3 linked regions of the Homo sapiens genome follow. The protein of the gene in region 2 purifies or fractionates together with the protein of the main gene of each other region. This does not show direct contact. Each region holds a gene or a part of one and is shown on either strand. Other genes may lie near its edges.

Evidence for each region.
Region 1: the proteins of FOXM1 (region 2) and USP5 purify together in Homo sapiens (affinity purification with western blotting; 2 studies listed by BioGRID). This does not show direct contact.
Region 3: the proteins of FOXM1 (region 2) and LIN9 purify together in Homo sapiens (affinity purification with western blotting; 2 studies listed by BioGRID and IntAct, with this or other methods). This does not show direct contact.

What each region holds. Positions count from the first base shown.
Region 1 is NC_000012.12:6,855,013-6,858,763, reverse strand, and holds part of USP5 (ubiquitin carboxyl-terminal hydrolase 5), read right to left. Parts: intron 3,410-3,751; exon of another isoform or gene 3,364-3,409; coding exon 3,238-3,363; intron 3,136-3,237; exon of another isoform or gene 3,010-3,135; coding exon 2,943-3,009; intron 2,748-2,942; coding exon 2,614-2,747; intron 2,460-2,613; coding exon 2,314-2,459; intron 2,058-2,313; coding exon 1,873-2,057; intron 1,136-1,872; coding exon 1,041-1,135; intron 341-1,040; coding exon 147-340; intron 1-146. UniProt on the Homo sapiens protein: Deubiquitinating enzyme that participates in a wide range of cellular processes by specifically cleaving isopeptide bonds between ubiquitin and substrate proteins or ubiquitin itself.
Region 2 is NC_000012.12:2,857,169-2,860,314, forward strand, and holds the end of FOXM1 (forkhead box protein M1), read right to left. Parts: intron 2,624-3,146; exon of another isoform or gene 2,496-2,623; coding exon 1,470-2,495; 3' UTR 512-1,469; downstream 1-511. UniProt on the Homo sapiens protein: Transcription factor regulating the expression of cell cycle genes essential for DNA replication and mitosis. Plays a role in the control of cell proliferation. Also plays a role in DNA break repair, participating in the DNA damage checkpoint response.
Region 3 is NC_000001.11:226,267,486-226,271,236, forward strand, and holds part of LIN9 (protein lin-9 homolog), read right to left. Parts: intron 606-3,751; coding exon 472-605; intron 1-471. UniProt on the Homo sapiens protein: Acts as a tumor suppressor. Inhibits DNA synthesis. Its ability to inhibit oncogenic transformation is mediated through its association with RB1. Plays a role in the expression of genes required for the G1/S transition.

The sequences.
Region 1 (3,751 bases), 4.0 Mb from region 2:
TACGGGTGTGGGCCAACACACCCAGCCGATAGGAACTACTCTAAGACTAGAATCAAACACAGAGGTGCTGAGGGAAGCTGAAGGAGGAGTATGCCCAGAGGGTGCTGACCAGGAGGGGGCCTGGGGAAGGAGAGGGCACTACTCACTTCCTCTGGAAGTCAGGGATGCTGAAGAGCACCTGGACCACAGAGTTGAGGTAGCAGCTGTTACCCAGGTTCCGGATGCCTGTGTAGCCAGGCCCAAACAGGGGCTTGAGTGGCACACCTGACTCCTGGATCAGCTCCCATTCACCAATCCGCTGGTTCATGTCTATCTCCAACTCAGTCATCGTCTTGTCTGTCTGTGTGAGAAGGGGCACTTCAGACTGAGTGAGAAACTCAACCCTGTAGTTTTTACCTCGATCTCTCACTGAGTCTAGGATGATACTCAACTGTGGCCTAGAATTTGTGGAATTACAGGCTCAAACATGGGAGGTATGTTGAGTATCGTCCAGTTCAAGTTCTGGAAGGCCACACATAATTGTCCCAGAGGCCCGTTAGTCATCAGGGCCTCTGCTTGAATGAGGAATAAAATTTCCTTCTACCTGAAATGTTTTTCCCATCCTTAAGTTACCCCTAACCTCCTTCACATTGTCAGTTAAGCATCGCTTCCTCAGGGAAATGTCCCTGATCCCTAAACTAGGCCAGGCCACCCTGCTGTCAATTACTGTAGTACCCTCCGCCTCTCTTTCACAGTGCCCACCAGTTTGCAACTATTCACTTATTTATCTGGGAATGTGACTAATGTCTGCCTTTTCTTCTAGAGTAGAACTCTTGTAAGCAAAAACCACATCTGTCTTATTCACACAGCCTCTAGCACATAGTAGGTACTCAGTACTATTCACTGAATAAATGATTTTAGATATTTAAAAGAAGCCTGTGTATCTTGGGGATGGGGTTAACTAGAAGATTTCTCCAAAACCCTACCTCAGCCTCAGGCAAAGAGGAAGGGCCCTCACAGGGGCAGGAAGTAGAAGAATCTGAAGTTGAAGGGGGTCTCACCTTCTGCATCTTCAGCATGTCGATGCCGAAGTGGGACAGGTGCTCAGCCAGGCTGGGGTCCAGGACCATGTCATCCTCATCATATGAGTACACGTCTAGAGCAGGAGGCAGGAAGAGAATCAGGGGAAGTGGCTCAGGACTAGCCAGGCCACCATCCCATCCCTTGCACAGAAGGGACTTGAGGGGACAGAAGGAGAGCCAGTAAGGTCCACCCTCTTGGTTCCCTTGAATATGAGTAATATGAGTGCGGTCATGGCCCTTCTGGGGCTGACGGTCAGGGAAGACAGATGAAACCGGGTGAGGGTTGGAATTACTTGTGATTCTGATTCTACCTGTATAGGATAAGGTAAGACAGGCTTGGTAGGAAAGGGATGAGGATTTGAGTGGGGAGTAATCAAAAATTTAGTCTCATCTGCAGTATTTTCCTTTTTTGAGACAGGGTCTCTGTAGCCCAGGCTGGAGTCCAGTGGTGCAATCATAGCTCACTGCAGCCTCAACCTCCCGGGTGCTCAAACAATCCTCCTGCCTCAGCCTCCTGAGTAGGTGAGACTACAGGCAGGAGCTACCACACCCAGCCAATTTTTCTTTTTTTTTCTTTTTTGGAGAGATGAGGTCTCACTATGTTGCCCAGGCTGGTCTCGAACTCCTAGGCTCAAGCAATTCTCCTGCCTTGGCCTCCCAAAGTGTTGGGATTGCAAACATGAGCCACCGCACCTGACTACTTTCCTTTCTTATCAAGATAATGCATTCATGTATTATACATGTCACACGAAATTACTAACAAATGAAATATATTTAAGCATGAGAGTGGCTGGAGGAGGGGAGGCTGTACCAGCTCCATCAGGGGTGATGGTGCCCAGCTTGACAGCTAACGGGTAGCCTGTCTCTCGGTAGTGCTCCACAGCGTGGTTGTTGCCCCCACTGCCATCGAAGTAGCGTCGCCCACAGAGGATGGAGCCATCAGTCAGGTTGAGCCACAGGTTCTCTCTCATGTCACACTTGGAGCACTTCCAGCCACTAACCCACAGAGAAGAGAATCAGCAGAAATGTGGGTCGGGGATTTGAGGGAGTGGCAGAGAGAGAGGGCTCTGCAGGCCCCCCGCCAATCCAAGGTCTCTCTCTCTTCTCCTCTGGCCATCCCCATGTCGTGTTCATTTCCAAGCTTCCCTTCCTGTCCTGCTCCCTACCCTCTCTCCCACCAGATCCCCCAGAAAAGTGGGCTCCTTGTCCTTGCTCTGGGGGTGGTGCCCGAGGCAGAGGGGCCAGGCCTCACCAGGGAGGGATTCGAGCAGGGTTGTCCAACTGCTTGAGGCTGAAGGCATGCTTAGACACCTGCCGTACTTCCCCATCCCATGCCTGCACCTCCTGCTTGCGGGAGGCTGAGTCGGCCGACAGTAGGGCCTCCACTGCACTGGTCACCTGGGGGAAGCAGAGGGTCAGAGGCAATACCCAACCCCCTGCCCCACATGCCCCTCTTCCCCTTGGCCTTCAGCTTTGTCAGTGCTTGCCTAAGACACCACTACCCTGGCCCATCTTGCTCTAGAATCTTGGGTAGCATAGGGGGCAGTCATACCCGATCTCTGACAATGTCAGGCAGTCCCCCCAGTCCATCCCGGGCAATCTCCAGGTAATCTGGCAAAATGACAATCTTCACATCCTCGTCTAATTCAAACTTCTCCTCGCTAAGGTCAAATCCGCCTTCAACACCTGGAAGGATAGGGAAGAAGAGGGAGAGTAGAGCAATGACAACAGGTCAATGTCCCTCCTCCGAGCCAGCACCTCACTTGCCCCATCCAGAGTTCTAGGGCCATCAATCAGGCCCACTCTTTGGGGCTTTCCTGGTGCTGCTGAGAGCCAGAAAGACCAGCTCAGGGAGAAGAATAGGACTGCAGCGGTGCTCACCAATAGCCAGCCGCGTGGGCTTCTTCCGGGGTGGGTCTCCAGTGCCTGTAGCAGGGTCCTCCTCTTTCTGTAAAGAAGCAGGAAGGGCTGGATCAGCAATGAGCACGAGCGAAGGAACAAGTCGGGAGGAGGGACGGAAGGAGGTAGTGCTTCATCTCAGAACGGAATAAAGCTAAAAAACATCTGTGCCAAGCTTTAATGACACAAAAGTAGGTGAAAAAAAGAAACTGAGTCCAATAGGAGGTCAGAATGGAACAGACAATGTACCCAGGCCTTGCCCCAGCCCTGCTCCTACCGGGCGCCGGGTCCGCCGGAGGTGCAAGTAGACTCGCTGGCCGGTCTTATTGAAATGTCTCTCCACATACTGTTTCCCAAAGCCCAGAAACGTGTTCATACAGATGTAGAGGCCCCCCTCAGACTCCTGTGGGACAAGAGGTAAGGGTGAAAACACGAGGATGTTATGAAGCCTGGTCAGGTGAGGAAACCAAAACCTGGAGTCAGAAACTGCTGGGTTCCAGAAGAAATGTTCTGTTCTCTAACACTGTGTGGCCCTTGGCAAGTTATTTAGCCTTTTAGGACCTGGGACATAGCTAAGATTCTCCCCATTTCCTCCCATGACTTTGATAACAACCAACAAGGACATCAGGGGGCTGAGGAACACCAGCTCATCGTCGCCATTCAACAGCAACACCAGTCACCATTTATCTTTCCACCTGCTCCTTCTTGGGCTTTGGAGCTCTTTAATCAATCACAGAGGACTTCCTTCACCTCTATCCTGGGGCTAACAGATCCAGAAAGTAAATGGGGAT
Region 2 (3,146 bases):
TGACCCTTGGGCCCCTGGCTACTTTTCAGGTTAGACAGGCAGGGGATAGCACTTTCTTCAAGTTCTGACTGCAAAAAACTGTAACAGGAGCTGCTGCCGGGCAGAAGAAAAGCAGGGCAGGCTGGCTCCCAGGCCTCAGGGTGGGGATGGCAGTGGGAATGAAGCACCTGTAACTGGGCCCTTCCTGCCCTAATGTTCAGGGGGCCCTACCCCTCGTGAGCTTGTCTTATTAAGAACCCTCAAAAGGCCTAAGTTAACCAGCAGGTCCAAAGGTCCCAAGGAACAAGGTCAGAGACGCCAGGGAAAAGAGGTGAGCTGTGCAGGACTAGCACTGGGAAAACTGGCAATTTGTGTTGTCAAGTGTGTGCCTGTGCAAGTGCTCCAACTGCTGCTTTGGGTGAACTTCAGGCCTTGCCTCTTCCCTATCACCATCGTCTCCATCAACACCCTCTTTCTTTTCCAGCCTCTCCTGGTGCCTTAGGAATCAGACGCCAATAAACCACAGAGCCCAGCATGTCCACCTTCGCTTTTATTGAGTAGTTAGTGTTCTCAAGCTGGCTCACACCCATGCGGTCAGCTGGGGCCTAGGGTGGCTCTTTGCAAAGCTGAGGGGCAAGCTAAGGAAGCCAGGCAGGTCAGGGGCCCTTTCGGCCTTCTCAAGCCTCCACCTGAGTTCTCGTCAATGCCAGTCTCCCTGGTATGATTGGGGACATTATCAGAGAAACATCTAATAGCGCACATCTGGGCACCCACACTCTGCTTCAGTTGCATCCATCCTCCCACCCCAAATTCAACTCCTGACCCAATACAAAAGACTTTTTTAACCAGGATTTCTTCTTGCAGGAAAGCTGACTTGGAAACACGGGGAGGTGGCAGGGAGGGGCAAAAAGGACTCTGGCAAGCAGATCCACTTGTCTGGGTCCCTGCAGTGAAGAACCCAAGATCCAGGTACCTCAGCCTGGAAGAAACCGTGCACTGCAGGTCTTCCCTTCTATCAAAACTAAAAGCAAGGAACAGAAGTCAATTGAAACCCCAGGTCATCCTACCCACCTTCTGGCAGTCTCTGGATAATGATCTAAGGAAATAAGCTTACATTTATAATTAGAGGATAATTTGGAGAATTTATACTATTTACACGGACCACCCTGCAAAGATCAGGGAAGGTAAGAGACTGCTGGGCAGAGAATGGAAACAGGCTGGGGGGTTCCTAATCTCTTTTCACCATTGCCTTTGTTGTTCCCACCCTTCAGCTCCTGGCAGGGACAGCAGAGGAATCAGATACTCTTGGGGAACACAAGGTCCCAGCAGTGGCTAGGGTGTGACTGCTACTTTTGCATAATCAGGCAGCAGGGAGCTATGAGGAGCAGAACAGTCCCTGCCTGCTGTCCTCACTCAGAGGCTTGGGGTGCACTGAGCCTTGGAGTGCCCGGGATGGTGGACAGCTTGAGCACAGGGGCAAGGGCAGGGCTCTACTGTAGCTCAGGAATAAACTGGGACCAGTTGATGTTGTCAGGGCCCAGTGGGTCCTCGTCCAGGCCAGGAAAGCTGATGTCCAGCAGGATCTTGCTGAGGCTGTCATTCATTGTGTCCAGGACCAGGCCTTCTGTCAGAGAACGATTGGCTGCAAGGCCAGAAACCTGTGGCTCCGGGGAGCCTGGCTTGGGGACGTCTATATCTGAGGGAGAAGAGTTGCCAAAGGGGACGGAGATGAGGTCTAAGGGTTCTGAACTGAGGAGCCTTTGCGGTGATTCAAGGGGGGGAGCACTTTGCAAGGGAGTGGTGCTGAGATCCATCAGCCCCAGGGGGTCAGGCAAGGGGTCAGAGGCACCCTGGGAGGTTTGTACTGGGCTGAAATCCAGTCCCCCTACTTTGGCTGGGGGCGTGAGCCTCCAGGATTCAGGGGTTCTGGGGAGGACAGATTTGCTCGGGGTGGAGGAGATGGGCAGCGTTTCCTTAATGGGTGTCTTAAAAGGTCCTCCCACTTCCTGGGAGTAGCTGAGCTGGGAGGCAGGGTCAGAGGAGTCTGCTGGGAACGGGAGCTCTGCGGCCCAGCGGGAAGTACTGGGCCCCTCTGAGAAGAGCAGCTCCGGCTCATCCACACAGGGAGGCAGTAGATGCTGTTTTCTCCGAGACCGGCTCCTCTCCCTCCTCTCCCTGTGTTGAATCACAAGCATTTCCGAGACACACCGGGTTGGGGACCTAAGCCCACTGTAGGACTTCTTGGGTCTTGGGGTGGGAGATTGGGACGAATCCTCCCAGGAGTGAGATGATTCCTCTTTGAAAGATGGGGCCGGGGAGGGCCACTCTTCCAAGGGAGGGCTCTCCACTTTGATGGGTCTCGCTAAGTGTGGCATTTCCTCCCCAGGCTGGATTTCTTCCTCCTTGATAGTCTGAACTGGAAGCAAAGGAGAAAACCCTTCTCCAAACAGGAGTTTCTCCTCTTTCCCTGGTCCTGCAGAAGAAAGAGGAGCTATCCCCTCCTCAGCTAGCAGCACCTGAAAGGGAAACAGAGATAAGGTGAACCAACGGTCACCAGACAGGACGCACAAAAATATCACATACGGGTTCTGATCCTCTTTGTGTCGTTTTGAAGTCTTAAAATCTATTAAATATGAGAATACGATGTATGTTGAAGTTGGTAGTTCAATTCTGGGGGTAAAAGATGCGGGTATGTAGTATGTAGTGGCATAATTATAATAGCATTCATCCGAGAGGAAATAAAATTGCATGCTTGTCTTACACTGTATACAAAGATTTAATGCATGAAAATAAGAACCTTAGGCTGCTCTGATGGTAGCGGGTAGTGACATTATTGTCACTAAAGTTGGTACACAACCCCCAACTGCTAAATTTGACTGGCTTTAAAAAAAAAATGAAAACCTTAAAATCATACAAATCCTGAAAGAGAATCTAGGAGACTACATATACAATCTGAGGGTGCGGGTGACCTTCTTAACCAAGACTGGAAACCCAGAAACTGTAAAAGAGAAGAGAGACATTTGACTACATAAAACTTTAAAATTTTACTGTGGCAAGAGATACCATAAACAAAGTTAAGAAACAACAAACAATGCCTGTAATCCCAGCACTGCAAGACACTGAGGCCAGTTTGAGACCAGCCTGAGCAACATAGTGAGATCCCATCT
Region 3 (3,751 bases), on a different chromosome or scaffold from region 2:
CCTTGAATAAATTACGCAATTGTACTTATGTCTGAGTTTCATCATGCAAAAGTGAAGGTAATTAACACCCACCTTGCATGCCTCTGAAGATAAAACAGGAGAACAAATAAGTACAAGATGTTACTATACTTTAAAAACAATTTTGCAAGAGGACTATACTTTAACCTAACAGCTGCAATGAAAATGTTATGTAGCTTCTTCTCCAAGGTTATTTAGTCAGGACTCATCAGTTTGGTTATACTAAAGTGCTGTGTCGTTAAGGTCCAACAGAGAAATGCTAGTTCCTGGCAAATGGAAGACTTAAGTATAGATCCGAACCAGGGGTCTAGCAGATAGGGCTGGGGTCCCCTAAGGATCTCTTCCTCTGTGAGATAAAGTCTTGATTCTATCATAAAATACGATTTCTAAAAAAACTCTATATAACACATTTAACAGGCATAAAACACAAATGTATTATGAAATACTACTTACGAGAACTTCATAGTCAGGGATGGTATGGGTTCCAAGCCCTGTCCTATCAAAAGTTACTCTATAAGTAGCATTAAGAGTATCCACAGCATCTATTTGTCCAGTGAACAAACCATCATGAACACCACGTAATCGTGCTGAGAAAAGAACAAAGGCATTATGATGTGTGGGAGATACAAAGAATAGTCAAATATAAAACTGTTCCAAGCATGTAATTTAAATCATAGTACAGTATTTTGTCTATTAGAGTTTCAAAACAAGCACACACTTTATTTTTGGCTTAGAGAAACAACAAAGAATTTTTGAAACAAAAACAAAAACTATAAATGATGATCCCTAATTTCATATTTGAATAAAATTATATTACTCCCAAATTAAGAGAAAAATATTTTAAATCATTTAACTGCAAAAAAAACAACAAAAGAACTTTGGTCATTATACTCATGAGTGAAGCACCAGGAGTAGTTCAATTTAAAAAAAAAGACAAAGATGTTGTGTAGAAAATAATTAAAGAAGTTAATACTGCAGGCCTGATGCTGCTATACTTAGGAAAACCTCCTTGCAAGGTTGGCCTTTGTCTGGTATCTGGGAACTTGGATTTCGGAAGTGTTCCCACTGTTCCCTAATTAATAATGGTGGTTTTACTGTGTCTAGATTGTGCAAACGATGTGGTTAATGCTGGACACCTGCTTTCCCTCTGGAAGACTGGAATTTTAGTATGTACTAGGCAAAAGATGCCTACATACTCAGCCCCCAGTAGAACTCTGGTCACTGAGTCTCTAATGAGCTTCCCTGGTAGACAACACTTATAAGCATTGTGACAACTTGTTTCTGGGAGAATTAAAAGTCTTGCATGACTCTATTGGGAGAGGACTTTTGAAAACTTGCACGTGGTTTCCTCTGGACTTTGCCCCAAGCACCTTATTCTTTTGCCAATTTTGTTTTGTGTCCTTCACTGTAACAAATCTTACCCATGAGTACATGTGCTGAGTATTCTGAGTCTTTCTAGTGAATCACCAAAACTAGTAGTCTTGGAACTGATGACACAGATGAACTGTGTCACTATTATTTAAGTCCAGCCTAAAATAACATCAGAGAAATCCAAACAAACATCCAGCATGAGTAAAAAATTTAAGAACAACAGCATTGATGGCTGTAAACTGGGCAAAGTAATACATTTTATACTAACCAAAAAGTATAATACACAACATTTTAATAGAACACAGAAATACACAATGCAAGACTGTTTAAAATAAAAGGATCAATTGATAAAAACACAACTGTAGAGGACTAAAATCTCTCTCAGTTTCTGACAGATCCTTTAAGGGAAAAGTAAACATGGATACAGAAGATGTAAATAATGAAGCTGAGTAAACAAATATAAGCATAGAAAAGGACTACTAGTTATGGTGGCATGAAGAGGCTGGTAATTCCTCTCCACAAAAAACAAGTACAAACCTGAATGAGATTGTGAAAAACAACCATTCCAGGGTACTGGAAATGGATCAAATGTAGAAAACAAGAAACGTTTATTGTTGAAGAAGTGCTAGAGCTTCAGGTTAGGGCAGGGGGACTCAGTGGCCTCTTTGCACGAGGTTATTCACACACCCACTACTACCACCAACGTGGTCGATGAGAATGGTTTTATTAGTTCAGGGTTGGTCACGAAAACCAGCCAGAATTTTGACTGGTCATGAAAGACAGCCAGAAATTTAACAGGGAGATCATGGAAACTAGAGAGCCATAAAAGGGCGGAAATAAGCTCTCTACCATCCCTGGCTAACTGGGTTACTATGCAAATGGAGGGGGAAGATCCAATAGTCTGGCAAAAAGTAAAAGCTAAGGATGACTTGAAAACTAGCAGCAACTTTGTATTTACATTCCCCAACTCACATATAAATCAATGTGAGGCTTTTCCCGATCAAGATGTTTGAGCATAACCTCTGTTCAAATCATTAGGTGACCACTAAATTATTATTATTATTTTGAGATGGGAGTCTCGCTCCGTTGCCCAGGATGGAATGCAGTGGCACGATCTCGCTCACTGCAACCTCCACCTCCCGGGTTCAAGTGATTCTCCTGCCTCAGCCTCCTGAGTAGCTGGGATTACAAGTGCCCGCCACCACACCCGGCTAATTTTTTTTTGTATTTTTAGTAGAGACAGGGTGTCACATGCTGGCCAGGCTGGTCACAAACTCCTGACATCAGGTGATCCGCCCGCCTCAGACTCCCAAAGTGTTGGGATTACAGGCGTGAGCCACCGCACCCAGCCCTGACCACTAAATTATATGCAGACACAGGGGTAACTCTTTGGAAATCAAGTTTAATAATAATAATAAATATAAGAATAAAAAATGAAGCAGAGACATCAGTATTTGCATAGCCAAGTTATTAAAGCAAATCCAACAACTCTCCAAAAAATTAGAATACATAGTTGCTACAATATATTATCTGAAATATCAAGTTTTCCACCAAAAATTACTAGACATGTAAAGAAGTAGGAAAGCATGGCTCTTAAGAAAAGTACAGTAAGAAATTGAGAGAGATATTTAGCAAAGACTTAAAAAAGCAGCTGTTATAAATATGTTCAAAGAATTAAAGTAGGCTGGGCGTGGTGGCTCACTTTGGGAGGCCCAAGAGGGTGGATCGCTGGAGCTCAGGAGTTCAAGACCAGTCTGTGCAACATGGTGAAACCCCATCTCTACAAAAACATACAAAAAAATTAGCCAGGCATGGTGGCATGTGCCTGTAGTCCCTGGAGGCTGAGGTGGGAGGATTGCTTGAGCCCAAGAGGTAGAGAGGTAGAGACTGCAGTGAGCCAGGATAGTACCACTGCACTCCAGCCTGGAAGACAGAGCAAGACTCTGTCTCAAAAAAAAAAAAAAAAAAAAAAAAAAGGTTTGTGTATGTATGTACTTTTTTCCTATTCTCTTCATTTCTGTTTTTTGAAAAATTTATTTGATAAATAAAATCTTTTTTATTTCTTTTCCATTTACTCCTTTAGATAACCTACAGAAAATCCCAGATAACCTGGAATTATCGTTCATTTTACAAAGATTACTTTTAGGATAGTTCAGATTCTTATAATTTCTTAACAAATCAATGATTTTAATATCTTTTTTAACACTCTCATTTCTCCAGGGGTAAACAACTGTGGCTTAAGTATGACGTCTCAAACAACTTTCTATATACTGTAGCTAAAGTATCATGTCTAGACATTTTTCCAAACTTCTCTACTATTCAAATTTTCCATTACTTTGAATACGCAGTGCATCTGTCAAAA